Regions from separate parts of the Homo sapiens genome. Here regions 1, 2 and 3 are each linked to region 4. The links come from fine-mapping of genetic effects on gene expression. A gene starts in region 4. Each other region holds a variant in brackets. All regions are shown on one strand. Distances are from middle to middle.

Region 1 (8,110 bases), 310 kb after region 4:
TCACATTGAGGCCACCCATGGCAAGGGTGTTTGATATACTATAGAATACTGAAGAATTAGAATGAATAATTCAATCTACCATACTCATTAACAGGAAAGTGGTTAAGTAATAATAGTATATCCATACTAAACAGCTGTCAGAAAGAATGAGTATATATGAATGTTCTAAAATGGAAAATATTCACAATACATCACTGAATGAAAGAAACAAGTTTAAAATATCTATAATATGATCCTTTTTTATTTTAAAAAATGCACATACACATATTTATTTTATATGCATAGTAAAGAGATAAATACACAAACTGTTAACAGCATTTATCTCTCAGTATTAGAGTTGGGAGATGAAGAAATAACTTCGATTTTATACTTTTATGTACTTTTGTATTATTGGAAAAATTTTTCATATATATGTATTACTTTTTTTTTTTTTTTTTGAGATGGAGTCTTGCTCTGTCACCCAGGCCAGAGTGCAGTGGTGCAATCTCTGCTCACAGCAAGCTCTGCCTCCTGGGTTCACACCATTCTCCTGCCTCAGCCTCCCAAGTAGATGGAACTACAGGCACCCACCACCACGCCTGGCTAATTTTTTTGTATTTTTAGTAGCGATGGGGTTTCACCACGTTAGCCAGGATGGTCTCGATCTCCAGACCTTGTGATCCACCTGCCTCGGCCTCCCAAAGTGTTGGGAATACCGGCGTGAGCCACCGCGCCCAACCATATATGTATTACTTTTGTGATGAAAAAACGAATATAAACAGAACAAACAAACAAATAATAAAAGAAAATGACTGACAGCAATATTTTTCTTTTCCATGTATTTTCTAGTTGATGATACATTTTCCATTCCCTTTTCCCAGCACATGAAATAATAAAGTAACAAATCTAATATCTAGAAGTTTTAAATTTGAGCTTCTGCCCCTGCAAAACTTCATTCTGCTTAAAAAATGATCTACTTTATTCCTCATAATCACCCTTAGAATTGTGGGGTACATCTTAATTCTATTGGGTATCATCAGAAACAGAGCATTCCTAAGAGTATTTGAAGATTTTCTGAGTTTCTTGATAGTTATTTCAAATATGGTATTTTTCTGTTTTAAAAATTCCATTTCTTTCTTTTTAATAGTTTCTATTTCTTAGTTGAGAATGTCTGTCTTTCAATTCATTTAGAGAGTGTTTACCTTTACCTTGTGGAGTATGTTTATAATAGCTGCTTTGGAGTCTTTGTATGATGTTTCCAACATCTAGATCAGGAGTTGGCAAACTACAGCCTATGTGCCAAATCCAAACTGCTGCCTGTTTATGCATGGCCCACGAGCAAAGAATTGTTTTGTTTTCAGTTTTAAATGGTTTGGGGGGAAATCAAAGAAAGACTAATATTTCATGAAACTAAAAATTACATGAAAATCAAATTTTGGTTTCCATAAATATAATTTTTTTGGAACATAGCCATGCTTATTTATTTACATATTGTCTGTGACTTTTTTGTCCTAAATGACAGAGTTGAGTTATTGTGATGGAAACCATTTGGCCCCCATGCCCTAAAATATTCCTTCCATCCAGCTGTTTACAGAAAAAGCTTGCTCCTGATCTGAGTTAGCTCAGGTTTTGCATCTGTTGATTGTCCTGTCCCTTGATAATTGGTCACATTTTCCTGGTTCTTTGTATGTTGAGTAATTTTGGATTGTATCCTGGACATTTTGAATATTATTTAATGACTTCAGGGCCTGTTATATTCCTCTAGAATGTGGATTACTTATTGTTTTAACAGACAATCAACCCAGTTAGATCATACCTCAAGCTCTATTTCAATCTCTGTGGGAAATGGTTCCAATGTCATTTTAGTTTTCAAAGACTTCACTATACTGCTTTACATCTTTTTCATGTATGCTCAGCTCGGGGTGAGCTTGGAACATGTGTTGGTTTATACTCAGAATAAGGGATTTTCTTCTCCAGTTCCCTTCTCTATGATATCTTCCTCCTTCTCTACAACTCCTGAGGGCCCCTCCTTCCAGTCCTCTGGTTAGAAGGATGGGATTTCTCTCATAATTACAGCTACCCATGCTGATGCACAGCTTACACACAATTAGAGTTGCTCTTAAATCAACACCAGCAGAGAGAAGAGGGGCAGAGAAGGAAAACTTACCCAGTACGAGTCATTCACTAAGCTTTGACTCCTTTCCACAATCCACCTGCTATTGTTTTCCAGCATCTTGAGGTAGCTACTTTTTGTGTATTGTCCAGAGTTTTTATTTACATAAGGTTTTGACTCCTGCCAATAATTAAGGGGTTGAAATTTCCAGAAAATAAGCACATCCTAAACAATGTCTTGATAATCCTTATATCACTATTTGGCAATAATTTAGCTCTAAAATCATGGTCTTCTTGGGATTAAGCATATGCAAAAGGCAATATCATGGTGGATTTACAAGGACCAACAATTCCGTTGACTCCTGAGGTTCTTTACTAGAATAGAGTAGGTGGATCAATTCCTATGATAAAACCAAGTTGACCTGAGTAAAGAGGTTTACAGCCTATCAGAAAATGTAAGTATACTCAAAGTATTTATTCTGTTAGATTTAATGCAAGAAGTTGAATGGTAAATGAGGCCAGGACTCTTGTTTGCAAGTGACAAGAAGAAAATAAGAAAATAATTTTTTGCAAGACCAGAGGTGGGGTTAGGGTGGTAGAAAGACTAATGGCTCCCCAAAGATATCCATATCCTAATCCTCAGAATCTGTGAATATGTGTTTTTCATGGCCAAAGGGGATTTGCTCATTAAAATAAAAATCTTGAGATGCAGAGATTATCCTCCGTTACCATGTCCAAATATAATTAAAGGGTCTTTATAGCAGAAAGAAACAGAAAGAGGGAGGCAGGAGTGTCAGAATCATAGAAGGAGATGTGATGATGGAAGCAGAGGTCAGGGAGATGGAGAGAGAGAGAGAAATTTGGAGGTGTTGTACTGCTGGCTTTGAAGATAGAGGAAGGGGCAAGGAGCCAAATAATGTAGATGTCTCTAGAATCTATAAAACGTAAGGAGCCAAATTCTCCTCTAGAATCTCCAGAAGGACCAAGCCCTGCTAACAACTTTCACCTCTCTTCAGCCCTGTGTCCCCAGAGTTAAATGGGGCTTTACCCTTTGGAGCCATTTAGGACAACCTCAGAGGAGGACTTTGGCTCCGGTCAACTGCCCAACCATTGAAACAATCATCTGAATAAATGGGAAAGAACATAATTATAAGCCAGAACCACCTGAGTTACTTGCAGTCCCCCTTGACTAGGGAGAAGGTAATGTAGTTGCAGTTACACTAGAAACACGTGGAAAAAGTAACAAATTTTCCAAAGGAGAGAAGGGTGCTGATCAGCCAAAGAGAAGAAGTCTTCGCCATAGTTGGTCCTTTCACTGATGAGACCCAGCAAGGCCATAGCAATGACAACGTCAACACATATCCCCAAATTTCCATTGAGATTACCAATTTATCATACCATTTCTAACACCATAATCTGTCTCCTCTTCTATCAGCATGTCTGCACTCACTTGTCCGGCTTACCTGCTGCATCATTTAATATTAGATTTTGCTTTGAGTGACAGTAAATGCAAAATAATGATAACTTGAGGTGTGTGTTTATGATGAGAGGGGGAAAACTCAGTGAGGCACTCTTTGTTGGATCTTCTCCCTTCTCTGTTTCACTTTCTCTGCCCCCTTATTTCAGCTGCCTGGGATCATCCCCTAAATAAACAAATTGCATTTCTCTACATAAATGAAATCTGGAGGTAGATAGTTCAGGGCTGGCAGATGCTCTGCAGTGCCAGGGCCCTGGGCATTTTCTATCTTGTTGTTTGCCATCCTTAACAAGTTATTTCAACCTCAGGGTCCAAGATGGCTCCTCAGGCTCTACCCATCATGTCTGTATTCGAGAATGCAAAAAAGAAGGAATAAATAAGAACCTATCTCTTTCCTAAAGATATTTCCTGAAAGTTGAATAGATTCCACTTATCAGAATATAACCACATAGCCACATGTAGCTGTGAGACAGGACAGAAAATGGAGGTACGTTAGTGACAGTGTGCCCAAAATCAGCTTCTGTTACCAAGAAAGAAAGGGGAAATACATATTGGGAACAGCCCAGTGGTGTTGGTCACTTCACCTCCTAGATTCTTTAGGACATTGAATCATGATTGCCTCTACAATTTACCTAATCAGTCAGTTTACTTCTGGTCACATATAAACATCTTCTCCTGGACTCCATAATCTGTTGTTTCTGATGTTGTCATCATGAACATTTAGACACACTGCTGGGTGTGTCAGGCCTAAACTTGGATTGCTAGCTCTCCCCTCTCTCCATCTATGCCCGATTTCTACCATATTGTGTTTTGTGGTTATTAATTCGTGTGAGATAGACAGCTATAAAAATGTAAGGACTCAAAGTAAATATCTATTTCCAAGGATTCTGTTGTCTTTGTATGTCTGCTAACCCTTTTTTGCCTCCCACAGTGTTGTCTTCAAACTCTGGTTTTAAACCATCCTCACCTCATCACCCTCCTCTTCCTTCAATGCCTCCAGTAGGTCCAGGGAGGGAGACAGCGCTAATAACTTTTGTGAAAAGTACATGATTTTCTCTCCCAGAAGGCCCAGAAAACACTTTCTCACATGTTATTGGCTCTGGGTAATAGCTTCAATAAATGACTGACTGGGAGAATTTTGCCTCCTTATTATTTTATTTTATTTTATTTTTGCAATAGGTTCTCATTCTGTTGCCAAGGCTGGAGGGCAGTGGAGTGATCTTAGCTCAC[C/T]GCAGCCTTCAACTCCAGGGCTCCGGTGATCCTCCTGCCTCAACCTCCCACGTAGTTAGGGCTACAGATACATACCACCATGCCCACCTTACATCTTTAATTATTATCTTCTATTTAGAATATTCCCCTGGCTTTTGATCTTCTGTGTATAGATATGCCCAGACAGCCATTTGTTGGGGGAGGAGGGAGTGGGTAGAAAAGAGCACATAAAAATAAAACAAAAACAATTATTTGACACTGGTTATCAAGCCACCAGCCTGAAAATGAGTGGGGAAAATAACTGAACTAGAGGGAAAAACAATCTGGCTCTGTCAACTTTCTAGCTGTGTGACTTTGGGAAGTCACAATCTGAGACTTAGTTTCTTTATTTGCAATATAAAGGTGTAATAGTTCAAATAATAACTAAGAAAAACTCAAGATTTCCTTTAATTTGCAATATAAATAATTTTCTAAACTGTTTCCACTTCTTTTATCTGTCTATTTTTAGGCACTGTAATTGGATGGTGATCTTCAGTACTTTCCCTGCAGTGGCCATCGGGGATGGTACTGTTGACCTCCATCTTGCAGGGTCCTGGTGGCTTTAAAAATTCTTGTCTTCATTCTTTCTGAACTTTCTGTAGCATGTAACACCATTGACCATCCTTGTTCTTCTGGGCACACTGTGTTTACTTCAGTTTTAAGATAGAGTACTCTACATCAAACACAGATAGACTCCCAACCTCAAAACTGAGCTGAAGCTAGGTTCTCCACTCTAACAAAACTTAATGAGTCTCAGGGCAGATGGAAGCACAGGAGACAACTGGCTACCAGGTATGGTTCTTTTTGTAACCATGGTTCATCCATAGGGATGCTCTTTTGCCTGGTTACCACATATTTCCCTGTGGCAGATGACAGTTTCCTTTACCCCTTATGAGTAGCTTCATGTATGTTCTTGGAGCCCAGGTCTAGGATGGTGAAAAAAATCCCTTCTCATCTGATTTAGGATCCTCCTCTTCCCAAGATGATTGGCAGTGAAAATAACCATGCCCTTCATAACAGCTCACATATCCTCCTCAACATGACACCTCAGAGCACAGCATCCAATATCAATACAGGAGATGCACACCCATAGCAGTAGGATTACAATCTTAAATGTCCCACTTCCAAATAGCAAAGAGACAAAAAACATTTCTTAAACATTTCTCAAACCTGTGTTGTTATATTTTCAATAATATCATATCCTTGACAGCAGCAATTCAGTCCAAGGTGAGCTTTGCTAAACCCAGCCTGGTTCCTTTTATGACTTCTTCTCCCGTGTGAGATGAATAAAGTGTCTGAACATGCTTCCTGCAGTTTTGAGGATTACAGGGCCTTATCTGTAATAACTGTTCAAATGAGAACACAATAATCTCAACAAAACCCAGCAACATTTGCAGGCACAAGGCAGTTTAAATCTACTTACAGAAAACATTTCTCCGAAGAGGACATGGTTTGCAGATATTCAGCTCTGGCTATAGCATAGAAAAAAATTCATGATCACAAATGCAGTTTAGCTTCTTAGAATTCACAACAGACACTTGGGTGTCCCAAACAACACTCTTAGCCCAGGTGATTCCAGCACAGCTATGGCGGACAATTCCAAGCACAGTGCCACATTCGACCTCAAATGTGGGCAGTGGCATCTCTCTGCCTTTCTGCTTCAAGGCTTTCTTTGAAAAACAGAAGGCCACTCAGCCCAACCCAAGCAGATTCAGCTGAAAAGTTCAGGGAAGAGCATAGGAGGAGGCGGCAGTTGCTCCCGGGCCAACCCTTAACCAACTCCAGTTGCCCACAGCTCAGTGAGGCACTCTTTGTTGGCTCTTTTCCCTTCTCTGTTTTACTTTCTCCACCCACTTATTTCAGCTGCCTGGGATCACCTCCTAAATAATCAATCTGCACCCAAGTCCTTTCTCAGATTCAGGTATTGGAAAAACCCAATCACTAAGAACTCCAATATCTACACTGTCTTATATGGGTTCTGGTTTTCTTTTGTGCAATTAAATGTTTTATTTGAGTTTTTTCAAATTAAAACTATAACCCACATCAGAGCTGCATTCAATTCTCAGTGCCTTCCTTTTTTTTTTCTTTTTTTTTTTTTTTTTTTTTTTGAGACGGAGTCTTGCTCTGTCGCCCAGGCTGGAGTGCAGTGGCGCCATCTCGGCTCACTGCAAGCTCCGCCTCCCGGGTTCACGCCATTCTCCTGCCTCAGCCTCCCGAGTAGCTGGGACTGCAGGCGCCCGCCACCACGCCTGGCTAATTTTTTTTGTATTTTTAGTAGAGACGGGGTTTCACCATGTTAGCCACGATGGCAGTGCCTTCCTTCTAACACACAAAGACTGATTGCAGCTCTGAGATGTCACTGAGCCCTATCCTCAACTTTCTACTATTTCCACCAATGCTTAGGAGATCTTAGGCCTGTATTGAGTCAAGACTCAAGCTCAAAAAACCATGTTCAACCTCCCACCAGCTTTTTCTAGAAAGAAGAAGCACATTTGAAAAACATGCCCTAGAAATGGGAGCTTGGTCCTGAGCTGGGGGCAGAGGAAAGGCTGCTTTCCTATTTTACATCTTGCTCCTGCAACAGTCTCTGCCTTCTCCCTGTGCAGTTAATAACTGCATTTTCTGCCAAACTCTATATGAGGTGTGAGCTGACTTAATTCATTAACTGACCACTTATTGCTTGGATCAGACACTATGCTAACTGTGGGGTAGCAAATTAATAAGGCAAAGTTCCAGAAGACAAGGGCCTCGCTGTCTTGTAAGAAAGACTGAAATCCAAACAAGTAAGCCACCTCCTGTGATGGAAGAAAGTCGAGTAGGCTCAGGAGGGGCATCTTATTTGGATAGGGGTCTGAGAAAGTTTTCTGGAGGAAATGGTGTCAGAGTTAAGTGAAAAGCGATGAACAGGAGTTATCCAGTTGAACAAGGGCAGAAAGGGAGCCCCAGGTGGGAGGAACAACCTGTGCAAGTGTGTTTGGTAGTGAGAAAGCAAGGTCCATGTGGGAAACTGAAAGTGCAGTGTGACTAGAGCAGAAATGCTGAGGAATGAAAGTAGGCACTACTTAGATCGAAGTTATGATAAGGAGTCTGAACTTTGTCTTGAAGCTGTCTGAATTTTGTCAGTAAGCTACTGATGTCATTTACTTACAGAATGAAATGGTTAGATTTGTGCTTTAGAGAGATAAATTTGGTAGTCCTATGAGATTGAATTGGAAATAGTAAAGGATAGAGGCAGAGAGACAAATTAAAAGGCTAAGGCAGTGATATGGCAGGCAAATAATTCTAAAGGCCTGA
Region 2 (8,109 bases), 59 kb before region 4:
TTGAGCAGGACGACCCTCTCCAATCTGGGTAGCATGGTTAGCCTGTGCAGTAACAACGTAGGCTCGGAGGATGGGTACAATGAAAATGATTCTGATTCGGAAACGTTTTGACTTTGGACTGTAGAAGCTTTTCTTTGATCACCTGTGTTGGAGGAAAGGAAAGAAGCTTGAATTCCAGGTTTATGTTGTATTCAAGTATTATTTGGGGCCTGGGCTTCCAGAAGCTAGTAGAGAAGGAATTAATCGAGGGAGGGCAGTGAGGCTGTTGGGTGGAACAGTCACACAGATGGCCCCAGTTTTGTTTTGTTTCACATTTTCTTTAAATCTAAGATACTTCTGTGAAAGTCTACCTCTCATTTTAAATAAAGAATAAAAGATGTATTTAATTCCTGTTCTTTGGGGATAATGCAGCAGAGAGGCAGCTGTTCGCTATGAATAATTTTTCTTTTCATGTATTTAGCAGTGAGTTCTCAGAAGTATATCAGTGTGACATTCATGTCCCCTGGGAGGGAAGGGAAGAGGCAGATAGGAAATGCCTCAAACTTCTTCTCACTTTGATGTTTACTTCCTCACTAGAAGCCAAAGGTAAAGGTGTCCATCTTCAGAAATAATGCCTGTAATAATCTTTTTAGAGAGTCCAACTATTTATATCCTCTCTATAGTAAGCATTTGAATATCCAGAACTTCTTTCTGAGGATCTCTGTTAAAGTTGCCAGATGAATTGAAAAATTGAACTTGCTTTTTTTGTTTAACACAGTGTTCCCTATAACAAGCCTGTGACTAATTTTCACTTAAGTGATTGAACCCAAATTTATCTAATAACATTTCAGGTGAAAATTATATTGCACCAAAACTTTGACACAATATGCAAAAATAGTATGAAACTACCCTTTGTTAATTTATTCTTAAATCAAAATACTAACTTTTAAAAAACATCAGAATCATCAGCATTGTTCATCAGTAGTAAAATGAGCTTCTCAGTCAAGGTCATACCAAGTCAGTGAAAAGTGTGACTGCAAAAAGGAACAAAAAAAGTGAAAGCAGAAAGTAGAAATGGGTGATTTAGCATGTAAAACCGATTGCCAGTTGCTTGATGATGAAATCAACATAGTGAATACTGTGTCTGCTCCCTCTGCCAAAGCTTCTAGGTCAAATGGACCCCGTTCCACACCTGGAACCGCTGTACAAAAAGAAGAATGAGACTCTTTAAAAATTATGCACATACACATGCACACATATATGTGTGCGTGTGTATATATATATATATGTGTGTGTGTGTGTAGTTCATCAGCCAGCTACACATGAGGACCAAAATGCTTCAGTCTAAAATGGAAGATACACATTTTTTTCCTTCAAAATGCAAGTGAGAACTGAAGTAGCTTTTTTATGGAGTTAAATGTAATCTTTCTGTGTACCAGTCTTTGTTGTATTTTATATTTCTTAGGACACAGATTTCTAGTTGACCACTTAACATTTGTAACTGATGATGTGCTGACCTTTTTTTTTTTTTTTGCCAAACTAGAGAAAATGTCCATATACTTTTGCTGTAAATGTGTTTATATTTATTTGAAATGAAACAAATGGTGAGGAAACATCCATTATTTGTTCTCTATTTTAATTGCTATGTATCTTATTTAGAATAACAAAAAAAAAGTGAAAAAAAAAACACTTGACCCTGGGCTAGCCAAAAGCCCAAGGGCCAAACCTAGCATTTCCACTGCTAAGGTTTCCAGATGACCCTCAGGTTCTTCCGCGTTGGTTAGAGAGGGCTACGCATCTTCTACTGCTCAGCCACAGTCTGTAGCCAGCTTAGAGCTTAGAAGACATTGCAGTCTGGATGCCCTTCTGCGAGATGAAAACTCAGATGTGTAGTGGATCATATACACAAAGGCAGCACAAAGAAATATCTAGAAATTACCCTAAGTACACTGAAAAGCTCACATAGTCTCAGTAACCTGATGAGAAATGATGGCAGTGTGTGGGCACATGTGCCAAAAGGAGAAATAAAAATCACCAGCTCAAGTGCTATTTTCTACTTGAGGAAGAGACAGAAAAGAAATGTGTCGAATTAGAGCAGTACTCTCTGACGTTTTATAATGAGTTCCATTTCCACCCTGGAAATTGCTATTTTATAGTGTATGTGAGATATTTCAAAAATAATGTTCTATCATATCTGGATCAAAGACAGATAACTGTATTATATTTTTCATCTAGCTATAAAACTTTAATCTTACTCTTAATATCCTGGATTTAATTAAAACTCCTGTTGGGTTCTTCACAAATGAGAACTTGTTCAAAGGATTTATTGAACTGGTATTGATTTCACTGAAAATTTTCCACACCACCACCATTGTTTTTTTGAATTCTTGGTGTTGTGCTTCCCACCTTCTGTCCTTTTCGTTTGTTTAGAGAAGATGAATTTTTAAAAAGCAGATAAATTGCTAATGAGCAATAATGACCTTATCTTTACCAAAACACTGAAAATTAAGAGAGGTTCAGTGTTGAAGAAGCACAATATGCTGCGGTGTCTTTTTCTAGAAGTGAATGGAAATCTTGCTCAGTTGGCATTTCAAGCAGGAAATGAAATGCTTGCTTTAATGGCAAAGCAGCGTTAACATTTTTCCTGTCGTGTAGCAGAGAGTACAAGAATCATTTCAGCAAAGCAGTGACTCACCATGAGACGTTATCTCCATGGAGCTGCGTTTTGACTTTTCCCACTCTCTTACTCATAGAAGGAGGACAAAGGAACGAAATGAAATCATGCTCACAATGAACTGTTCATTACATCAACTGATCTCTCTCTCTCTCTCTTCCTCTCTTTCTCTTTCTCCCATACCCCAAGGCAAAATTTTTTTAAAGAAATGACTTTAAAAACTATCATTTCTGTATTTTAATTACATCTCTTAGAAATAAAATTATGTTTGCACCATAGCTTTCTAAGAAAAAAAAATGTGTTTTTAACTGAGTCTTAGTTGCTTAGTGCTTTTATTTGTGTTATTTTTAGACTGTATTTTAACCACAACTACAAGGATCATGTTTCATTGCACTTACTTATTTGCCAGTGTCTGCCTGTCTTTGCTAAATACATTACTATCTCCAAATTGCCTAAAATCTGCTATGATTCTACAGTAAATAGCTCAGGGTATTTCTATTTATCACTACTAAAAGGGCACCATAGTATGTTTTGGTACTTTAGGCAGTAAACACTGCTTGGTTTATCATTTTGTTATTAAATTAGAACAAGAACATCAAATGGATTTGCTGCACTAGTTATTCTTTGTACTGTTGAGCAACTTGGTGTGCTTATATGTTGTGTTGGTTGAAGAACTCATCCGTTTTATTGTCTTGTAATATGAAGTTAGAGTGCCTTTTTATATTTGTATATTCTGAAAATGTTCTGTGGAATGTTTTGTATTTTTTCATTTGAGTGTTATCAGAGCAATATGATACCAGTGAGTTTTCATTTCAACTTTTCTTTGAATGTATAAAGTGTCTTTTTTCCTATTTCCCCTTGTACTTGCATTGAAATGAATATGAAAATGCTTAAGTTTTCTATAGGAATTGTTTGATTTTGCAGTGCTAAAATGCTTTCGTCTTACGAAACTATAAACCATAGGTCAGTATTATAGGGGAAAAGCATTTTAAGATAGTGACAATCTGAGTGTTTGTATAAAATGTAATTCTATGCGTTTCTTATGTGATCTAAAAATTCAATGCAAATATCTTTTATTTGGTAGTTTTGTCTACATATTTTATGCTCTAGCATGTGCAATATATCTTTGTAAAGCACGATGATACAAATCTGGTGCCAGTGTTATATTTTGCATAACATATTTGTAACAGCATAAAATATTGTTTGATGATTTCAGTGGGATTTTGTCTATAATGTTTTCTTATGTAAATTGGAGTTGAATGACTCTGGTAAATGTCATGACTGTAAAAATGGGGAAAATGACTTTTAGTTCAGTGAATGACTTTGAAACAATCTGAATCTTCTCAAGCACAGTTTAATACTTTTGCAACTACTGAATGCTCTAATAACGTAATGAAGTACTTAACTGTAATATACTATGGAAATGCATTCAGATGGTTATTTTTACAAATAAAAACGGTACAAATATTGTTGGAATTTGTGTTTTAATTTTTCCAATTTATGCTTTTTCTAAATTATGCTAATTTAAATCTTTGCACCCCCTCAAGCCAAATTAACTTTAAATTTAGAAAATAATCAAGATAAAAGTGTATCTCCAGATTCACGATTTATGTTTGTGTTATCACAATTAGAGAAAAAATTCAAACATATATGCTTGTGTTTATTATATGTATTTATGCTTCCAACTTTTTTCCATAAAGGGTTTTGTTTTGTTTTGTTTTGTTTTGTTTTTTTCTGCTCTGTTGTCCAGGCTGATGGGCAGTTGTGAGATCTCGGCTCACTGCAGCCTCGACCTCCTGGGCTGAAGTAATCTTCCTACCTCAGCCTCCCGAGTAGCTGGGACTACAGATGTGCACCACTATGCCTAGCTAATTTTGTTTTTTTGTAGAGATGGGGTCTCACTATATTGCCCAGGCTGGCCCATAAAGGATTTGAGCTGGGTTATGACAAAAGACGTGATAAACTAGAAATAGAAAAATGAGAACAGAGAAAAAGAATACAAACAGATAAAGGAACCATAAAATTTAAAACAGTATCTGTGACTGAACTTGTGTTTGCTCTCAGCTTCCTTGCAGCCAAGGTAAGAGGAGAAATGTGATCAGTTATATAGTCCACATCAAAAAAGAGGAAGCTTATTAGGTCCTCAAAATTGTGAAATCAACCATGCCTAACTTTGGTATTGTCACCATTACCCTTCAGGGACTTTATA[A/G]CAACACAAGAACCTCCATCTCTGCACTATCCTTAAAGGTATCCATAGAATTTCCTTCCCCATCTATCTCACCATCCAAAATTTTTCATCTTGAGTAGTAACTTCAGGGACAGTCTCTGGAAGCACTAAGGAACAAATTCCTAATGATGGAGTTTCCAGCTATTGACGAAGAGACTTGGGGGTGGTGCCTGCCTGAGTTCCCCAAATCAAGTAGTATAGAATGTTAGCAGTTATTACAGTCCAGCCCAGTCACATCACCAGCTCTTTCAGGAAGAAACTGAATCCTAGAGAAGTTATACAACTTGAATTTTTGAAGATAGTGATCTGATGATACCACATCTGCCTCTAGATGTTCTCTCTTCGATGCCATCTTGCCATATAATGTTTTGTTTTTTTCTGCCAGAAATGTTAAGGGAGGTTTTGTACTCAGCCCTGCCTCCCTTCTTATTCAAATATACAAATCTGGGTGCTTTTCAATCTTAAAGAATGTAAAACAGGAGTCACACCACAAGTGAGTGCTTCCTGTTGTTTAGAGTAGACTGGGTATATTAGTTATCTATTGCTGTGTAACAAATTACCCCAAAACTTAGTGGCTTAAAACAACAAATGTTTCCTAACCCACAGTTTCTATGAGTCAGCCCTAGTTTAGCTGGGTCTTCTGTTCCAGGGTCTCTCACAGCCTGTAATCATGGTGTTGGCCTGGGAACGATCCATTTCTAAGTTCACTCATATGGTTGTTGGCAGGATTCTTCTCATGGGTTGTTACACTGAGGGCCTCAGTTCCTTGATGGCTGTTGGCTGCCGTCCGTTCCTTGCCAGATGGGCCTTCCCATAGGGAAGCTCACAACATGGCAGCTTGCCTTGCGGGCGAGCAGGCTGAGAAAAGCCAGGGAGACAAAGAGCAAGACAGAGTCACAGATTTTTGCAACTGAATTTCAGAAGTGATATTTCATCATTTTTCTCATATTCTATTCATGAGAAGCAAGTTACTAAGTCCAATCTATACTCAAGGGCAAGGGATTCCCCAAGGGTGTGAACAGCAGGAACAGCAATTACTAGGAGCCATTTTTGGAAGCTACTCGCCACCCTGGTCTATCACGGTGTCCTTTGAGGCTGTAACATCATACTAATACACCTTCTTCCCAGTCATTGCTAAGGAAATTGCTTGCTTGACTGACTGAACTCACCCTTTCAAGGAAAATGTAGAGATCCCTAATTTTAATTGTGTTCTCATAAGCAGAGAAATGTGATAATGGCCTCCACTGTGGTAATTATATTTTTGAACATTGATGTGGCACTTTGTCTTCAAACTGCTTGTCAAAGGTTCCTTCACGCTAATTCCATTTGGTAGGTTTAGATCCCTGTATAAGTATCCCTCACTTAACACACTTAATGTGTTCCAGAATTAGTTTGCAAAGCACAAAAGCATTAAGCTAAAAGGCTATTAACATAAAAACATTGTGGGTAAAAGTACTATATGAATTGTCTCTTTAGCAAATTTCATCCTGAAGGTACATTTGCTGTAAAATATAAAGCACCAAGATAATGGCTGTGCCATTCATTAATTCTCAGGCACTCTAGGGAGTGATTGGAAATGTGTGGGCATTTGTAGTTGGCACAATGGCTGGGGGGTGGGCAGGGCTGCTACTAGAGTATTTATAGTTCCAAGCGCCAGGGAGACCAAATGTGCCACTCAACCCAGGGAATAACTGCGCCACTTAGAATGTCAATGCTCCTCTACCCCACTGCTCACCTATTTGCCTTTCTCTTGTTTCTGAATCATTTCTTCATCAATGTATTGCTTATGACACTAGCCATATTGCCTCATCTATTTTCACAAGGGATTGCATAAACATACTTTATATGCCCTCAGAACGAGAACTTACAAGGTTGAGAAAGAACTTTGGAAGGCAATGCTGAGCACATGTGCCCTGGTTATGTATTTTTCCAGGGGAGAAGATTTGCACAGATCAAGGCATCTTTAATTCCTTTGTTATCAAACCAAAATGTGGCCATACACATGTATATTTCTTGTCTTAAGCAAGAGGTGATTGTATCTACTTTCCCAGTGGGGGGAACTCCTGCTCACAAAGGTGGGGCACTTGGCCCACCGTCACATGGCAAGCTCTGACAACACAGTACTTCAGCCTCACAGGGTTCTCTAGGCACTGGTGGACACAATTTCTAGGATACTATTTTCTGCTTTTAAATGTCAATTTAATGAAGTACTGTGTATTACATTCTGGAAGAATTTTATAATTTTCAAAAGTAAAAATACTGAAGCAGTACTTTTAGAGCACAAAAAGCTTACCTGTGTTTGCATTGAGTTGAAAGTACCCAGCAAATTCGTGAACTTTATTTATATTTTTTATAGTTGGGGTTCCTAAGAATTACTAACATTTAAACTCAGATCCTAACCACAAGAAATTACCAGCTATGCAAAGATCAGAGGAGAGAACATTCTAGGGAGAGGAAAAGGCTAGTGCCAATACCCAAAGGCAGGAATGAGTTTGTTATGTTCTAGGAACAGAAATGGGGCCAGTGTGGCTGGAGACTCAAGGGAAAGGGAGGGTGGCAGAAGATTAACAGCGATCTCAGCCCAGACATAAAATTTTGTGAGCTGGGAGGAGTTTCTATATTTTTCTGAATGTGACAAAAGCCACTGGAGAAATGTAAGCAGAAAAATGGCTGTGGTCTGATTTTTTTTTTCTGTCATTTTTATTTTTTATTTTTTATTTTTATTTTAAGTTCTGGGGTACATGTGCAGAACATACAGAATTGTTACATAGGTATACATGTGCCATGGTGGTATGCTGCACCTATCAACCCGTCATCTAGGTTTTAGGCCCCGCATGCATTAGGTATTTGTCCTAATGCTCTCCCTCCCCTTACCCCAACCCACCAACAGGCCCTGGTGTGTGATATACCCCTCCCTGTGTCCATGTGTTCCCATTGTTCAACTCCCACTTATGAGTGAGAACATGTGGTGTTTGATTTTCTGTTCCTGTGTTAGTTTGCTGAGAATGATGGCTTCTAGCTTCATCCATGTCCCTGTAAATGACATGAACTCATTCTTTTTTATGGCTGCATAGTATTCTATGGTGTATATGTGCCACATTTTCTTTATCCAGTGATTTCATTTTTAAAAGATCACTCTGGCTGCTGTTGAGAGACAAGAGAGAGAAACCCTAGTGACCAATTAGGTAGCCACTGCAATAGCCTAGACAAGTAAATATAGTGGCTTGGA
Region 3 (8,110 bases), 240 kb after region 4:
AAAACGTTTTAGGTAGGTTTTTTATTTTATTATTATTATACTTTAAGTTTTAGGGTACATGTGCACAATGTGCAGGTTAGTTACATATGTATACATGTGCCATGCTGGTGTGCTGCACCCATTAACTCATCATTTAGCATTAGGTATATCTCCTAAAGCTATCCCTCCCCCCTCCTCCCTCCCGCCTCCCCACAACAGTCCCCAGAGTGTGATGTTCCCCTTCCTGTGTCCATGTGTTCTCATTGTTCAATTCCCACCTATGAGTGAGAATATGCGGTGTTTGGTTTTTTGTTCTTGCGATAGTTTACTGAGAATGATGATTTCCAATTTCATCCATGTCCCTACAAAGGACATGAACTCATCATTTTTTATGGCTGCATAGTATAAACAGAACCAAAGACAAAAACCACATGATTATTTCAATAGAGGCAGAAAAGGCCTTTGACAAAATTCAACAACCCTTCATGCTAAAAACTCTCAATAAATTAGGTATTGATGGGATGTATCTCAAAATAATAAGAGCTATCTATGACAAACCCACAGCCAATATCATACTGAATGGGCAAAAACTGAAAGCATTCCCTTTGAAAACTGGCACAAGACAGGGATGCCCTCTCTCACCATTCCTATTCAACATAGTGTTGGAAGTTCTGGCCAGGGCAATTAGGCAGGAGAAGGAAATAAAGGGTATTCAATTAGGAAAAGAGGAAGTCAAATTGTCCCTGTTTGCAGATGACATGATTGTATATCTAGAAAACCCCGTTGTCTCAGCCCAAAATCTCCTTAAGCTGATAAGCAACTTCAGAAAAGTCTCAGGATACAAAATCAATGTACAAAAATCACAAGCATTCTTATACACCAATAACAGACAAACAGAGAGCCAAATCATGACTGAACTCCCATTCACAATTGCTTCAAAGAGAATAAAATACCTAGGAATCCAACTTACAAGGGATGTGAAGGACCTCTTCAAGGAGAACTACAAACCACTGCTCAATGAAATAAAAGAGGATACAAACAAATGGAAGAACATTCCATGCTCATGGGTAGGAAGAATCAATATCATGAAAATGGCCATACTGCCCAAGGTAATTTACAGATTCAATGCCATCCCCATCAAGCTACCAATGACTTTCCTCACAGAATTGGAAAAAACTACTTTAAAGTTCATATGGAACCAAAAAAGAGCCCACATCGCCAAGTCAATCCTAAGCCAAAAGAACAAAGCTGGAGGCATCACACTACCTGACTTCAAATTATACTACAAGGCTACAGTAACCAAAACAGCATGGTACTGGTACCAAAACACAGATATAGATCAATGGAACAGAACAGAGCCCTCAGAAATAACGCCGCATATCTACAACTATCTGATCTTTGACAAACCTGAGAAAAACAAGCAATGGGGAAAGAATTCCCTATTTAATAAATGGTGCTGGGAAAACTGGCTAGCCATATGTAGAAAGCTGAAACTGGATCCCTTCCTTATACCTTATACAAAAATTAATTCAAGATGGATTAAAGACTTAAATGTTAGACCTAAAACCATAAAAACCCTAGAAGAAAACCTAGGCATTACCATTCAGGACATAGGCATGGGCAAGGACTTCATGTCTAAAACACCAAAAGCAATGGCAACAAAAGCCAAAATTGACAAATGGGATCTAATTAAACTAAAGAGCTTCTGCACATCAAAAGAAACTACCATCAGAGTGAACAGGCAACCTACAAAATGGGAGAAAATTTTCGCAACCTACTCATCTGACAAAGGGCTAATATCCAGAATCTACAGTGAACTCAAACAAATTTACAAGAAAAAAACAAACAACCCCATCAAAAAGTGGGCGAAGGACATGAACAGACACTTCTCAAAGGAAGACATTTATGCGATCCTATATCTCAAAAACCCTATTGCCTCAGCCCCAAAGCTTCTTAAGCTGATAAGCAACTTCAGCAGTCTCAGGATACAAAATCAATGTGCAAAGATCGTTAGCATTCCCATACATCAACAACAGTAAAGCTGACAGCCAAATCATGAATGAACTCCCATTCACAGTTGCCACAAAAAGAATAAAATACCTAGGAATACAGCTACTAGGTAGGTGAAAGGTCTCTACAAGAACTACAAAACACTGCTCAAAGAAATGAGAGATGACATTAACAAATGGAAAAACATTCCATGCTCATGGATAAGAAGAATCATGTCATTAAAATGGCCATACTGCCCAAAGCAATTTACAGATTCAATGCTATTCCCATTAAACTACCATTGACATTCTTCACAGAACTCGAAAATACTATTTTAAAATTTATATGGAACCAAAAAAGAGCCTGAACAGCTAAGAAAATCCTAAGCAAAAAGAACAAAGCTGGAGGTACCATGCTACTCAACTTCAAATTATGCTACAGGGCTACAGTAACCAAAACAGCATGCATGGTACTGGTACAAGAACAGACACATAGACCAATGGAACAGAATAGAGAACCCAGAAATAAGACCACACACCTTCAGCTATCTGACCTTTGACAAACCTGACAAAAACAAGCAATGGGGAAAGGATTCCCTGTTAAATAAATGGGACTGGGATAACTGGCTAGCTATATGCAGAAGATGGAAACTGGACCCCTTCCCTATGCCATATACAAAAATTAACTCAAAATAGCTTAAGGACTTAAATATAAAACCCAGAACTATAAAAACCCTGGAAGACAACCTAGGTAATACTATTCAGAACATAGGCACGAGCAAAGATTTCATGACAAAGACGTCAAAAGCAATCGCAACGAAAGCAAAAATTGACAAATGGGATCTAATTAAACTAAAGAGCTTCTGCATAGCAAAAGAAACTATCACCAGAGTAAACAGACAGTCTACAGAATGAAAGACTATACATCTGACAAAGGTCTAATATCCAGCATCTATAAGGAACTTAAATTTGCAAGAAAAAGACAACCTCATTAAACAGTGGGCAAAAAGCATAAACAGATACTTCTTAAAAGAAGACATAAATGTGGCCAAGAATCATATGAAGAAAGCTCAACATCACTGAACATCAGAGAAATGTAAATCAAAACCACAATGAGATACCATCTCACACCAGTCAGAATGACTACTATTAAAAAGTCAAAAAATCAAATAATAACAGATGCTGGTGAGGTTGTGGAGAAAAAGGAACACTTGCACACTGTTGGTGGGAGTGTAAATTAGTTCAACCATTGTGGAAGACAGTGTGGCGATTCCTCAAATTCCTGAAGACAGAAATACCATTTGACCCAGCAATCTCATTACTGGGTATATACCCAAAGGAATATACATCATTCTATTATAAAGATACATGCATGTGTGTATGTTCACTGGAGCACTATTCACAACAGCAAATACATGGAATCAACCTAAATGCTCATCAATGATAGACTGGATAAAGCAAATGTGGTACATATACACCATGGAATACTATGCAGCCATAAAAAAGAATGAGATCACGTCCTCGTGATCATGGATGGAGCTGGGGGCCATTATCCTTAGCAAACTAACACTGGAACAGAAAACCAAATGTTGCATGTTCTCTTATAAGTGGGAGCTAAATGATGAGAATATATGGATACACAGAGGAGAACAACAAGTACTGGGTGTGTCAGAGGGTGGAGGGTGGGTGGAGGGAGAGAATCAGGAAAAATAATAATATCTGGGTGATGAAATAATCTGCATAACAAATCCCCGTAACACACATTTACCTATGTAACAAACCTGCACATGTACACTGAACTTAAAAGTTAAAAAAAAAAACCTAGGTGTGACCACTGAGGTTTGTGTAAGTACTCTCTATTGCACGACAACAAAACTGCCCAGAGATGCATTTCTGAGAATGTATCTCCATCAAGTGACAACCTAACTGTATTAGAAGATTCAATATTGCTGAGATGTTAACTCTAATTTCAGTTGAAATCCCCACAAAACATCATTAAGGTCATTCTAAAACATACATGAAAAAGCAAATGAACTAAAATAGCTAAAACACTTTAGGAAAATAACACCGTTGGAGGACTCTACCTAATTTCACGATTTATTATAAAGCTACAATAATCATAGTCTGTGGAAAGGCTACTGTGTTGTTGAACTTGCCCAGCTGTGGGTGCAGCCATGTACCAGGCAGCCCAAGCCTGACATAAAGTAAATTCCCAGGAGAAGTCTTTCCTGGGTTTTGAATTTGCAGTAACAGGTGTAAGCATTCCAGCAGCAGTTTGTTGATCATGTGATATCAGAAATGCAAGCTAAAGGACAGTTGCCAACTGTGGGAATGAGTGTAAAAGACATGCCCCAAAACAAACATAAGTAAACT[G/A]TTGAAAGCAAGAGACACAAAATCTTGAAAGTATCAAGAGAGGAGTGGCTCCTGATGTACAAGATAATCTCAGTAAGATTAACAGCTGATTTCTCATCAGAAAGTTGAGGCCAGAAGGCAGTGGGATGACATATTCAAAATGCTGAAAGAAAAACATTCAACCGGCTGGGCGCGGTGGCTCACACCTATAATCCCAGCACTTTGGGTGGCTGAGGCGGGCGGATCACGAGGTCAGGAGATCAAGACCATCCCTGGATAACAAGGTGAAACCTCGTCTCTACTAAAAATACAAAAAAAATTAGCCAGGCGTGGTGGTAGGCGCCTGTAGTCCCAGCTACTTGGGAGGCTGAGGCAGGAGAATGGCATGAACCCGGGAGGTGGAGCTTGCAGTGAGCCGAGATGGCACCGCTGCACTCCAGCCTGGGTGACAGAGCGAGACACTGTCTCAGAAAAAAAAAAAAGAAAAGAAAAAGAAAAACATTCAACCATGAATTCTAAATTCAGCAAACCTATCCTCAAAAACAACAGAGAAATTAAGACATTCCCAGATAAATAAAAATGGAAATAATTCATACAAGAGCTTTTCTTCTAGTTTAAACACACTCTTGAGAATGTGGTTCTTCAGACTTCACCTAAAACGTGGAGTAATTTCTCCAGGTCCCCATTTTTGATGGGGTTTGGATTGTGAAGCTAGAAAGCATACGCTGTAAGAAATACTAAAGGAAGTTCTTTAGGCTAAAATAAAAGGGCACTAGACAATATCTGGAATCCACATAAGAAATAAAAGGTAACAGTAAAGGTAGCAACATAGGTGTATATAAAAGGTAGTATATATTTTTGTTTGTAATTCTTTTTGTTACCTATAAACCAAAATACAGAATAAAAGAAATGATAAGGGAGTTAAAATGGTGAACTAGAAATATATATTTAACATAAAAGATGGCACTAATTGAGAAATAGAGGAACAAAAAGCAAAAAACGAAACAAAAAAAGCAAAATGGCAGATATAAATCCTACCTTAACAGTAATTATATTAAATACAAATGGATTAAACCACTGCAATTACAAAGCACAGAGATAGGCAAAATTAGTTTTTAAAAAAACAACTATATGCTGTTTATAAAATATACACTTTAGATCCAAATACCCAAATGGGGTTGAAAGCAAAAGGATGAAAAATATATACCATATAAATTAAACAGTAATCTAAAAAGAGCTAGAATGATTGTACTAATATTAGACAAAATAGACATTAAGAAAAAACTGGTGAGATAAAGGGCATTATACACTGAAAAAGTGTTTACTCATCAAGAAGATGTATCATTTATAAATATATATGCACCTAACAGAGGCCACAAGTATATGAAGCAAAAAATGACAGTATTGAAGGAACAAATAAATAATTTAACAGTAATAGTTGGAGACTTCAATACCCCATTTTCATTAATCAGCAGAACAACTGGACAGAAGATTAATGCGGAAACAGAAGACATGAACAACACTATAAACCAAGTAGACCTAACGGACACCTATAGAACAATCCTCCCAATAATAGCAAAATACACATTTTTCTCAAATGCACATGGAACATTCTTCAGGGTATAACCCTGTTATACCACAAAACAACTCTCAATAAATCTGAAAGGACTGATATCATGCAAAGTATGTTCTCCAACCACAATGGAATAAAATTAGAAATCAATAAAAGAATATTTGGGGAATTCACATATGTGAATAAACTAAACATGTCACTTCTAAACAACCAATGGGTCAAAAAAGAAATCTCAAGGGAAATTAAAGAACAGTTTGAGATAAACAAAAATGAAAACACAAAATAACAAAACATCTCATATGCAGCTAAAGCAGTGCAGAGAGGGAAATTTATAGCTGCAGAAACTTATTTTTTATTTTTTTATGGGCACTCCCCTGAACCAGAATAGGTTCAGAGTGACTCCTATAGGCACTTACATTTAAAAAATGAAATATTTCTCAATCAATAACCTAAGCTTTTTTTTAGAAACTAGACAAAGAAAAGCAAATTAAACCCCAAGCAAACATAAAGAAGGTAACAAGATTAACGCAGAAATAAGATAGAGAAAAATCTATAAAAACTTCCACAAGTTGGTTCTCTAGAAAGATCAACAAAATTGACAAACCTTTAGCTGGACTAACCAAGAACAAAATACAGGAGACACAAATTATTAAAATTAGCAGTCAGAGAGAGAACTCTGCTACTGACCTTACAGAAAGAAAGACAAGGGGCTACTCTGAAAATAGTATGCTAACAAATTAGATAGCCTAGATGAAATGGACAAATTCCTAGAAAGAACCAAACTACTGAAACTGACTCAAATAAAGGTAGAAAATCTGCATAGACCTATAAGAATAAAAATAATAAACCAAACAAAGAAACAAAACCTTCTACATACAAGAAAGCCCAGAACCAGATGGCTTCACTGGTAAATGCTACAAAATATTTAAAGAAGAATTAACCCCAATCCCTCACAAACTCTTCCCAACAATAGAAATGGAGGGAATACTTACCAAATGGTTTTAAGAGACCAATATTATCTTGATACCAAAACCAAAAAGATTACAAGAAAATAAAACTACAGAACAGTATCCCTTATGAATATAGATGCAAAAAATCTTAACAAAATACTAGCAAGCCTAATGCAACAACATATAAAAAGGACAACATGACCAAATAAAATTTATCCAAGGAATGCAAGCTTAGTTTTCCATTTCAAGTCAATCACTGTAATACACCATAGTAATAGAACAAAGAACAAAACCCACAAGATCATCTCAATAGACACAGCAAAAGCATTTAACAAAATTCAACATATTTTCATGACAAAAATTCCCAACAAACTGAGAATAGAGGGGAATTTTCTAATCCTGATGAACAGCATTGAAAAAACCCCACAGTTGACATCATACTTAATGGTGACAAACTAAAAGCTTTCCCCCGAAGATCAGAAACAAGACAGAGATGTCTGCTCTCACCAATTCTATTCAATACTGCACTGGAGATTCTATCAGGCAATTATATACGAAAATGAAATAAAAGGCAGCCAAATTGGAAAGGAAGAAGTGAAACTATCTGTATTACAAATAGACATAGCAAATAGAGAGCCCAGGAGTTCGAGACCAGCCAGGCAACAGAACAAAACTCCATCTCTACAAAAAATAACTATCTCTATTACAAATAGAGATAATTTATAGAGATATAGTTTATAGAGATAGTTATAGTGATGACACTATCTTATACAGTAGTCCTCACTGTCATTGATAGGTTCTTGGAGACTGCAACTTCAAGTGAAATGATAATGCATAACAAAATCCATTTTTTTCTTATCAACATCATAACACAACACTGAATGAAATGATGTTATTCAAGGACCTGCTGTATGTCGTTTCACTTGAAATTGAAACCTAAGAACCTACTGATGACATTAAGTGAGGACATACTTTATACAGAAAATATACAACAAATTGTATTATTGAGATTGTAATACTCTTCAAATTGATCTACAGATTCAATGTAAACCTTACCAAAATTCCAGCTGTTCTTTTTTACAGAAATGGAGAGTCTGGTCCTAAAATTCATATAGAAATGCAATGACCCAGAATGGCTAAAACAATCTTTAAAAAATAACAACAAAAAAAAAAGTTGGAAGATTCACATTTAGACGTCAAAACTTCCTACAAAACAATAGTAATCAAGACTGTGTGGTATTAGCATAACGACAGACATATAGATCAAT
Region 4 (8,110 bases):
TCCTTTTTACCTTAAAAAAAAAAATCCCCATTTTAACTGGAGTTAGTTTGTGTTCTTGCAACCAAAAGAATCCTGACTAGAGTTCACGCTCTGAGGGGCCACTAAAGGATTTTTGCTGGAAAGTAGAATGATGACTGGGAATAAAATCATGGGATTAATAAAATGTAAGGGATAAGTAAAAAAAGTAAGTCACATGAGATGGAGACTGAGAGGCTACATCAACAGGAGAAAACCAGTGGAAAATGATGTTACAGAAGACAATGGAGGGCATTGTTTTAAGAAAGAAGTGGCAAATGTAGTAGAAGGATCAAGTAAGACTGAAAAGTGTAAACTGGATTTGGTAATTAGGTCAATGGTTACCTTTGCAAGAAAAGTTTCATGGGAGTGGGAGGGGGGCAAAAATTACAGTGTAGCTGAGACATGAAGGGGAGATGAGGAATTAGACATAAGTATTGATCACATCTTTAGGAATCCTGACTGAGATGAGAAGAGCTACAGGTGAGAGCCACGAGGAAGATTTTTGAAAAAAAACAACAACACATATTTATATGCTTTGGGGAGGGAGGATAGAAAGGGAGAGATTGATAGAGCCCTTAACCTGATAGAACTAACTTCCTGAAAAGAAAGGAGCATGAGATGGGAACATAAAACATAGCTAGAGAGATGTGCTTTTTATGTCCTCTAAGGATAGCAAAGTACCATGGTAATGCTTACTATATGCCAGTCATTGTGCCAAACACTTCAGATGTATTAACTGAATTAGGACTGGGTGAAGATAATGAACTTAGGAATGAGAAGCTGAAGCAATGTGCATCTGAAAATCAAAATTATCTCTGTAATATGAAGATAAGGTTATGTACTAAAAACCTACTAAAAGAGAAGGAAGAAGAAATGTAGGGAGCTTAAAAAGTGGCAGGGAACTTAAAAAGTGGTGGTCTGAAATATAGAAGAGGAAGGTGGTGACCAGAAACATATATAAGTATTTTTTGAGACAGAGTCTCATTCTGTTTGTTGCCCAGGCTGGAGTGAAGTGGTGAGATCTCGGCTCACTGCAACCTCTGCCTCCCAGGTTCAAGCAATTCTCGTGCCTCAGCCTCCCCAGTAGTTGGGATTACAGGCGTGCGCCACCACGCCTGGCTAATTTTTGTATTTTTAGTAGAGATGGGGTTTCACCATATTGGCCAGGCTGGTCTCGAACTCCTGAGCTCAGTCAATCTGCCCTCCTCGGCCTCCCAAAGTGCTAGGATTACAGGCGTGAGCCCTGTGCCTGGCCAAGTATTTTTGAAGAGTTAATTCAAATGACTGTGTCATTTTCTCTAGCAGTAGTCAGATACAGTAGTGTCAGAGCTCAGAGCCAGATTATATTGTCCCAAGGTTGGAAGTTTGTAAGTAGAGTGGGATAGAAAGACAAGCGGTCAAGACAGTTGACAGCTCTGGCAGAGGGTGGTTGAAGTGATGCTCAGTAGGGTTAGGTTAGATATAAAAGTAAAGCTAGGAGTGGATAATGATGGATAGGAGAAAAGACAGTAAAAAATTAGGATAGAAAGATTACAAACATGAAGAATCCATTGACTCTCTATCCCACTCCTTTCTGAGTGAACAGTCAATGCAGCTAGTTGCCACAACTCATGAAGGCCACCAAAAGAGGAAGCTCTGTCATCTTGGAGTTCAGGGATTTCTCCATAGAACAGAGTCCTCAGGCAGTACAGGTCCGTGCTATTCAAAGTGTAGTCCACTGACCAGTATCATTGGCATCACCCAGTAGTTTGTCAGAAATGCAGAATTTTGGGTCCCACCCCAGAACTGTTAAATCAGAATCTTCTTTTTTTTATTTTTATTTTTTTGATAGAGTCTCGCTCTATTGCCCAGGCTGGAGTGCAGTGGTGGGATCTCAGCTCACTGCAACCTCCGCCTCCTGGGTTCAAGTGATTCTCCTGTCTCAGCCTCCCAAGTAGCTGGGACTATAGGTGTGCACCACCATGCCCAGCTAATTCTTTGTATTTTTAGTAGAGACGGGGTTTCACCATGCTGGCTAGGATGGTCTCAAACTCCTGACCTCGTGATCCGCCCACCTTGGCCTCCCCAAGTGCAGGGATTATAAGCATGAGCTACTGTGCCCGGCCCAGAATCTGCTTTTTAACAAAATCTCCAAGTGATTCACATGCACATTAACTTTAAGAAGCACTGAGATAGAGATGAGGGAGTATGGATTCACCCTGGGTTTATTTGTCATAATACTACTCCTACCATGCTAGGAGAAATAAAGAGGAGACGTTCTGCCTTTGATGTTCTTTAGCACCCAGACTCAATGTATTCCCCCCTTTTTATTTATAACTTAAAGCCTTCCCCAAATGATTTGTAATCCTCTGCACTCACTGGTAATTGCATCCCAAACCCCACATGCATTCTCTTTTATGGTCAACAATGTCAAAACCCTATAGTATATATTCCTCTTTATCACATTTATCTCTTAACATCTTGCGATCAAAATGGGTTCTTCTTGATAATCCAGTCATGTTGGTGTAATTCTACAAATTTAACACATTCTATACCTATTAATAGAATATAACAGACATGACATTCCCAAGTGAAATCACCACTTCATAAAGAATTTCAGGCTGGGTGCTGTGGTTCACACCTGTAATCCCAGCACTTTGGGAGGCCGAAACAGGTGGATCACTTGAGGACAGAAGTTTGAGACCAGCCTGGCCAACATAGCAAAATGCCTTCTCTACTAAAAATACAAAAAGGTAAGCCGGGCACAGTGGCTCATGCCTGTAGTCCCAGTACTTTGGGAGGATGAGGCGGGTGGATCAAGAGGTCAGGAGTTCGAGATCAGCTTGTCCAACATGGTGAAACCCCGTCTCTACTAAAAATAAAAAATTAGCCGGGCATGATGGTGTGTGCCTGTAATCCCAGCTACTCGGGAGGCTGAGGCAGGAGAATTGCTTGAACCAGGGAGGTGGAGGGTGCAGTGAGCCGAGATCGCGCCACTGCACTCCAGTCTGGGCAACAGAGCAAGACTCCGTCTCAAAAAAAAAAAAAAAAAAAAAAAAATTAGCCAGGTGTGGTGGTCACACCTATAATCCCAGCTACTTGGAGGCTGAGACACCAGGATCACTTGAATCCGGGAAGCGGAGGCTGCAGTGAGTCAATATCGCGCCACTGCACTCCAGCCTGGGCGACAGAGCAAGACTCCGTTTCAAAAAAAAAAAAAAAAAAATTAGCCAGGTGTGGTGGTCACACCTATAATCCCAGCTACTTGGAGGCCGAGGCACCAGGATCACTTGAACCCGGGAAGCGGAGGCTGCAGTGAGTCGATATCGCGCCACTGCACTCCAGCCTGGGCGACAGAGCAAGACTCAGTCTCAAAACAAACAAAAACGACACGTCTCATACAGGACTTACTTCAATGACATATTACTTAATTGCCCTCCTGATCAGTACCACCTACAGCTCCCCTGTTATCCTGGTCTTTCCAGACTTATCTCCCTACAAAAAAGGAGACTGCTTCCGCATTTTCCCATTTCTGTCTTTCTCCGTCAATACTCCACATTCCGTAGCTAGCTGTGTTTGTTTAGACTTGCAACTGTTTCTGTGCAGGGTAAAGACTATCTTGATTTTCAGGATCACTCCACTTCTTCTTCATAGTTTCGTAATCTGAACATCAGGGTGTTGTACAAGATAAACTATAAGCTTCCTTTTGGTTTTAAAATTCTTTGATTTTATGTATTGTAGCCAAACTTCCTCTGCACAGAAAATATACCAGAAAATCAGCCCAAGTTCAATGAAATTCATTTAGTGCCAAAGACCATTCTAAGAATCCTGTGGTTACTACACACACACGCACACACACACCGTCTACTGTTGAGTCAGCTTTAAAGAGTGATGTCTTTTTCCTAACATTCTAGTGTTTTGAAGCTGCTACAAGTGATTGATTTCGAGCTTTTTTTAAAAACTCCTCCTTTGTACAAAACAGAACCGAAATTCTTCAAAACGAATTAAGTCATTTGCGAGTTTGAATGGAAGCTGGACGAAATTGCCTCCTCCAGTTAACGTGGAACCCATTCCCCAAGAGATGGAGGTTCTGGAGAGCAAGGCGAGTCAGCGTCAAACTGATTACGCAGATACCTGTTGGGGACGTCAGTGCTAATAGATATTTTGGTAACATATTTTAAGGACTAACGATGCTTTTTGTGATTCAGGCTTTCATCTGATACCAAGAGCAGAATCTCGTCGGCTTGCGGGTGTTTTTTTTTTTTTTTTTTTTTTTTTTTTTAATGAGCCGGTGCTTTTAAGCGCTGTTACCTACTGGGCCCAAGTAGGCGGTAGAAGAGGGAAAATAAAGCCATTTGTTCCCTCTTCAAGCTAACTGCTCCAGAGAGCTGTGAGTGTGCTCTACTACCGTTGGGAAAACCGAAATTGCGGAGGCCTGAGTCTTTTCAAAATTGAACGGGAAGCGTTTTTAAACTGCCGCAGGGAGAGGCGTTTGCGAGGTGACAGCTGATGACCCCTGGGCTTTTAAGTCCTCCTCCCCTCTCTCGGTCCGCTCTCGGTCCTTAATCGCCTCTGGACTCTGGGCTCTAGTCCCCTCCCCAGATTCACCCATCTGACACCCGCCTCCTGCCCAATCCCCCGGCTCGTCTCCAGGGCTCCCGCGCTCCGCCCATCCCCCTCTGGATGCTTCCTCTCTCTCTCTTCTTTCCCTCCCGCCAGCCACTCCTCGCGTCTTTCTCTCCCCACTTCCCTTCTTTCCCCTCACCCTCCAGCCCAGCCCACCCTGCTTTCTCCCTCTTTCTCTTTCCCGTAGATCCGCGCTCGCGCTGCAACACCTACTCCTCCCTCGGCTCTGGGAGTCGCCAGGCCAGAGGCGCCGCGGACCTGGTGCGCGCAGGCGCACTGCGCGGCTGGCGAACGGGCAGGCCGGGCATCAGCGCAGGCGCGCGCGGCTGGGGCTCGGCTCCGGGGGTGGCGGTCGGACAGTGTCTAGCACGCTCAGTCCGGGCTTGGGGCCCCGCGGCGGAGAAGGAGGTAGAGGGGGCGGCGGCGGCGGCGGCGGTGGTGGCGGCACCATGTTTCTTCACTCAGTTAATCTCTGGAACCTGGCGTTTTATGTCTTCATGGTCTTTCTGGCAACCCTGGGGCTGTGGGATGTCTTCTTCGGCTTCGAGGAGAATAAGTGCAGTATGAGCTACATGTTTGAGTACCCGGAGTATCAGGTAAGGTTCTGCCCTCTCCTCAGCCGGGCGCTCCAAGACTCTGGCCCCTGGTGCCTTTTTCCTTCTGTGGGTTCGTCCTGCCTTGGCTCTCTGCGCCTCTCGGGCCCCCTGTCCCGTCCTCGCCTCTGTTTTCTCCGCCCGGGGAGACTCTGCATCCCCCTTCTGCCCCCCTCACCTCCCCTTTGTGTCCCTTCTTCACGGTGGGGTGTTTGTTAGACGATTTCCCGAGAGCATCCTCGTGGTCGTCCTCGTAGTTACTCCGCTGTCCCTCCGCCTCCTCCCCAGCCCCAAATCCTGGGCACAAGCTCTTCTGACTGGCCGGGCCCAGCCCCCCTCATGCCCAGAGAGGCAGCCTCAACCCTTCTCCCTAAACCGAAGCTCCATCCCTCTCGCGTTCTTGCCTTAACCCGTGCCCCAGGACCTTCCTTTGCTTCCCACGCGCCTAAATTCCCCTCGCGCCCGGTGATCTGCTCGTCAGATTTCGCATTTCTAGAAAGGGACCGAGCGTCTGCAGAGTGTATATTGGCTAGATAGTTCCCAAGGCTGTTTTTAGAGACTCCAGGGTTTTGCCTATGGGTAAACTGGCGAGTCATTGAATTGGAAACTAGATCCCCTCTTGGAAAGATGTTGCAGATCCTCTTATTTTGCAGGTTAAGGGGCCGTGCGTGTGTGGGCTTGCCTGTGTGTGTGCATACCTGTGTTTATGCATGTCTCTCAGCAGCCGAGCCTCTTAATAGTTGCATACAAAATCTATTTCATGGTGCTATTTTTGTTTTCTCGCTGGGTTCGGAGTTTAAGAGAGAGCCAACCCTTCTCTCTCCACCCCTACCGCTTCCATGCCATTTTGAATGTTTTCAATCAATGGCTTCGTTAGTTCGGCATAGTAGGATCTAGAATTTCATTCATGACTAGCTGTAAAAAGAGGCGCAGACAAATTACACAACTGTCCTAAGAGAATTTTTCCGAATGATTCTTTTATTTCTAAGTGCATCTCTTAATTATGGACTACCTATTGTAATAATTCCCTACCATAAAATGTATATGCACTATAACATATATTGATAAAATACATTTTTAGTATACTCTTAAAATCACAGCAGTTTTTTTTTTAGGGTGAAGGATGCAAGTCCTGATTGCTTCTTTGTACAAGTCATTATGGAGGAAGCCTGTTACTTGATTACGCTGCTATTATTTTGATCTTAAGACTACTTAAGGTTTAAATTGCTGAAGAGCATTCTTTCCCATGGGAAAAATTCTAGTAAATTTAGATTTCATTTGTGTTTAGATCCTTACCTTGGTTTTGCATTTATGATGATAAGAGAGTGGAAACATTTGGTAGGGATGCTATCGAAGGAGAAGATTTTGACATGTTACTGTCGTCTCTGTTCATTTCTAAGCAAACCTTTTTAGTTTAGTATTTTAAAAAACTGAAAATAGAGCTATTATAATTCCCTCCTTATTTTTGGTTTAATAATTAGGAAACTCCCAATAGATTGAAGTAGGTCACTTTAGTTTTGTACCGCATTGAAGAGTTTGGTTAAAATCATTTTGTGACAGTACAGTACTAATTCCCATTTATTTTTAGATTTCCTACAATTATTGAAGCTATTTTAATATTCACAGAAGTAGAAATTGTTCTCTTTAGCGTTGGGAACAAAGCATATGGATCTCACAGACGCATTTCCTGCCTCATAAATTGACTGGAAAAACAGAAAATTAGTGTAGCTAATGGTAAAGAGCTCTTTGGGTTTTTATTGTTGTTGAGTAGTCTAGGTTTAGTTATTTTGGTTTAAGTTGCTTTTTTGGGGTTTTACACTTCTATTAATAATTTGCTAATACAGTAATAATCACAGTGGCAGAAGTTTTTGATTTTTAGCAGGTTTTTATGATGTAAAAAGCTGTGTTAATTCATGATAGTATTTATATTGTATTCTTAAGTCTTTTTGTTTTGCATACCAGGTCATGTTATCTTACAAATACAATTAAAACCAGCCTATAGAAATGAGTCATTTTGAACATAGTGAGATTTCTGGATAAATGAGGCCATTCTGTTGAGAACCAAATGGCTTTCATGAATAAAAATGTTTTAAAGATATTTTACATATTGCTTACTTTTAATTATATTTTATAGTCAGCTCTCTAATTGTTCACAGGTTGATACCCAGATGTGAGATGTCCTAGTCATTGGGTTTTCTTCTTTCTTTTGATGCCTTTCTTTTTTTTTACTGCTCATTTGCATCTTCTTTAGTTAGCCAGCAGAAATAGAAAGGTGGTTGAAACACATTCAGTTTTATTATCCATTTTTTTAAAAGATGGGGCATAAATTTGAAACTCTTTGCAAAAATGAAGTTTTGAATTTAAAATTGTTTGATTATCTCTATTCATCTTCTACCTCTGGTTTTCCCAGATTCACTTATTCAGAGTTAATTGAACATCTCACGAACCCATATCTCAAGCCTACTAGGCAAAATATACTTTATCCTTTAAAGCTTCTTGCCCTATTACGACAGCAAGGCAAAACTTTTATTTGGTAGCAAATGGTTTTAGGCAAATTGCAGAATTTTAGAAGAAACGTCTGAGTTGTTTCTCTCATACAGTGATTTGTCTGGCTATCTTCGTATGTGTAACCTAACGGTTGCTCTCTGAAAGGAAATGTTGGCGTGCGTCTATAGTCGCAGGTACTCAGGAGGCTGAGGCTGGAGAATCGCTTGAACCAGGGAGGCGGAGGTTGCAGTGAGCCAAGATTGTGCCATTTCACTCCAGGCGGGGCGACAGTGAGACTCTGTCTCAAAAAAAAAAAAAAGAAAGAAAAAAAGAAAATATGAGTCATATATTTTGTTATTAAGTGTGTTATTTATTTAGAAAGTCATTTATTGAATGACTAGTCTTTG

Direction of the effects. Alleles are on the strand shown, and positions count from the first base shown. SD is a standard deviation of normalised expression in the study named. Not every link is listed here.
As copies of G replace A in region 2, the expression in monocytes after LPS of the gene that starts at base 4,982 in region 4 goes down (small effect, 0.36 SD a copy in Quach 2016).
In carriers of allele A in region 3, the expression in sun-exposed skin of the gene that starts at base 4,982 in region 4 tends to be higher than with G alone (moderate effect, 0.42 SD a copy in GTEx).

What was found. PIP is the estimated chance that this variant, and not a neighbour inherited with it, causes the effect.
Region 1: its variant is fine-mapped to the expression of PGAP1 in whole blood (INTERVAL, PIP 0.96).
Region 2: its variant is fine-mapped to the expression of PGAP1 in monocytes after LPS (Quach 2016, PIP 0.95). The same link has a PIP of 0.9 or more in monocytes and monocytes after Pam3CSK4.
Region 3: its variant is fine-mapped to the expression of PGAP1 in sun-exposed skin (GTEx, PIP 0.93).

Annotation. Positions count from the first base shown.
Region 1 is chr2:196,617,338-196,625,447 of GRCh38, reverse strand. No RefSeq gene overlaps it. Among named protein-coding and RNA genes, the nearest start is that of CCDC150, 18 kb to the left of the region's middle. The variant C/T (reference allele first, on the strand shown) is at 4,799.
Region 2 is chr2:196,982,682-196,990,790 of GRCh38, reverse strand. ANKRD44 (ankyrin repeat domain 44) reads left to right here. Exons shown (of 28, transcript NM_001195144.2): 28 at 1,142-4,129. The coding sequence ends at 1,200. Among named protein-coding and RNA genes, the nearest start is that of PGAP1, 60 kb to the right of the region's middle. The variant A/G (reference allele first, on the strand shown) is at 4,863.
Region 3 is chr2:196,682,307-196,690,416 of GRCh38, reverse strand. All of the region lies in intron 13 of CCDC150 (coiled-coil domain containing 150), which reads right to left. It also overlaps LOC124900529. Among named protein-coding and RNA genes, the nearest start is that of CCDC150, 47 kb to the right of the region's middle. The variant G/A (reference allele first, on the strand shown) is at 4,341.
Region 4 is chr2:196,923,579-196,931,688 of GRCh38, reverse strand. It overlaps PGAP1 (post-GPI attachment to proteins inositol deacylase 1), which reads left to right and starts at 4,982. Exons shown (of 27, transcript NM_024989.4): 1 at 4,982-5,219. The coding sequence starts at 5,073. RefSeq lists a silencer at 4,784-5,033.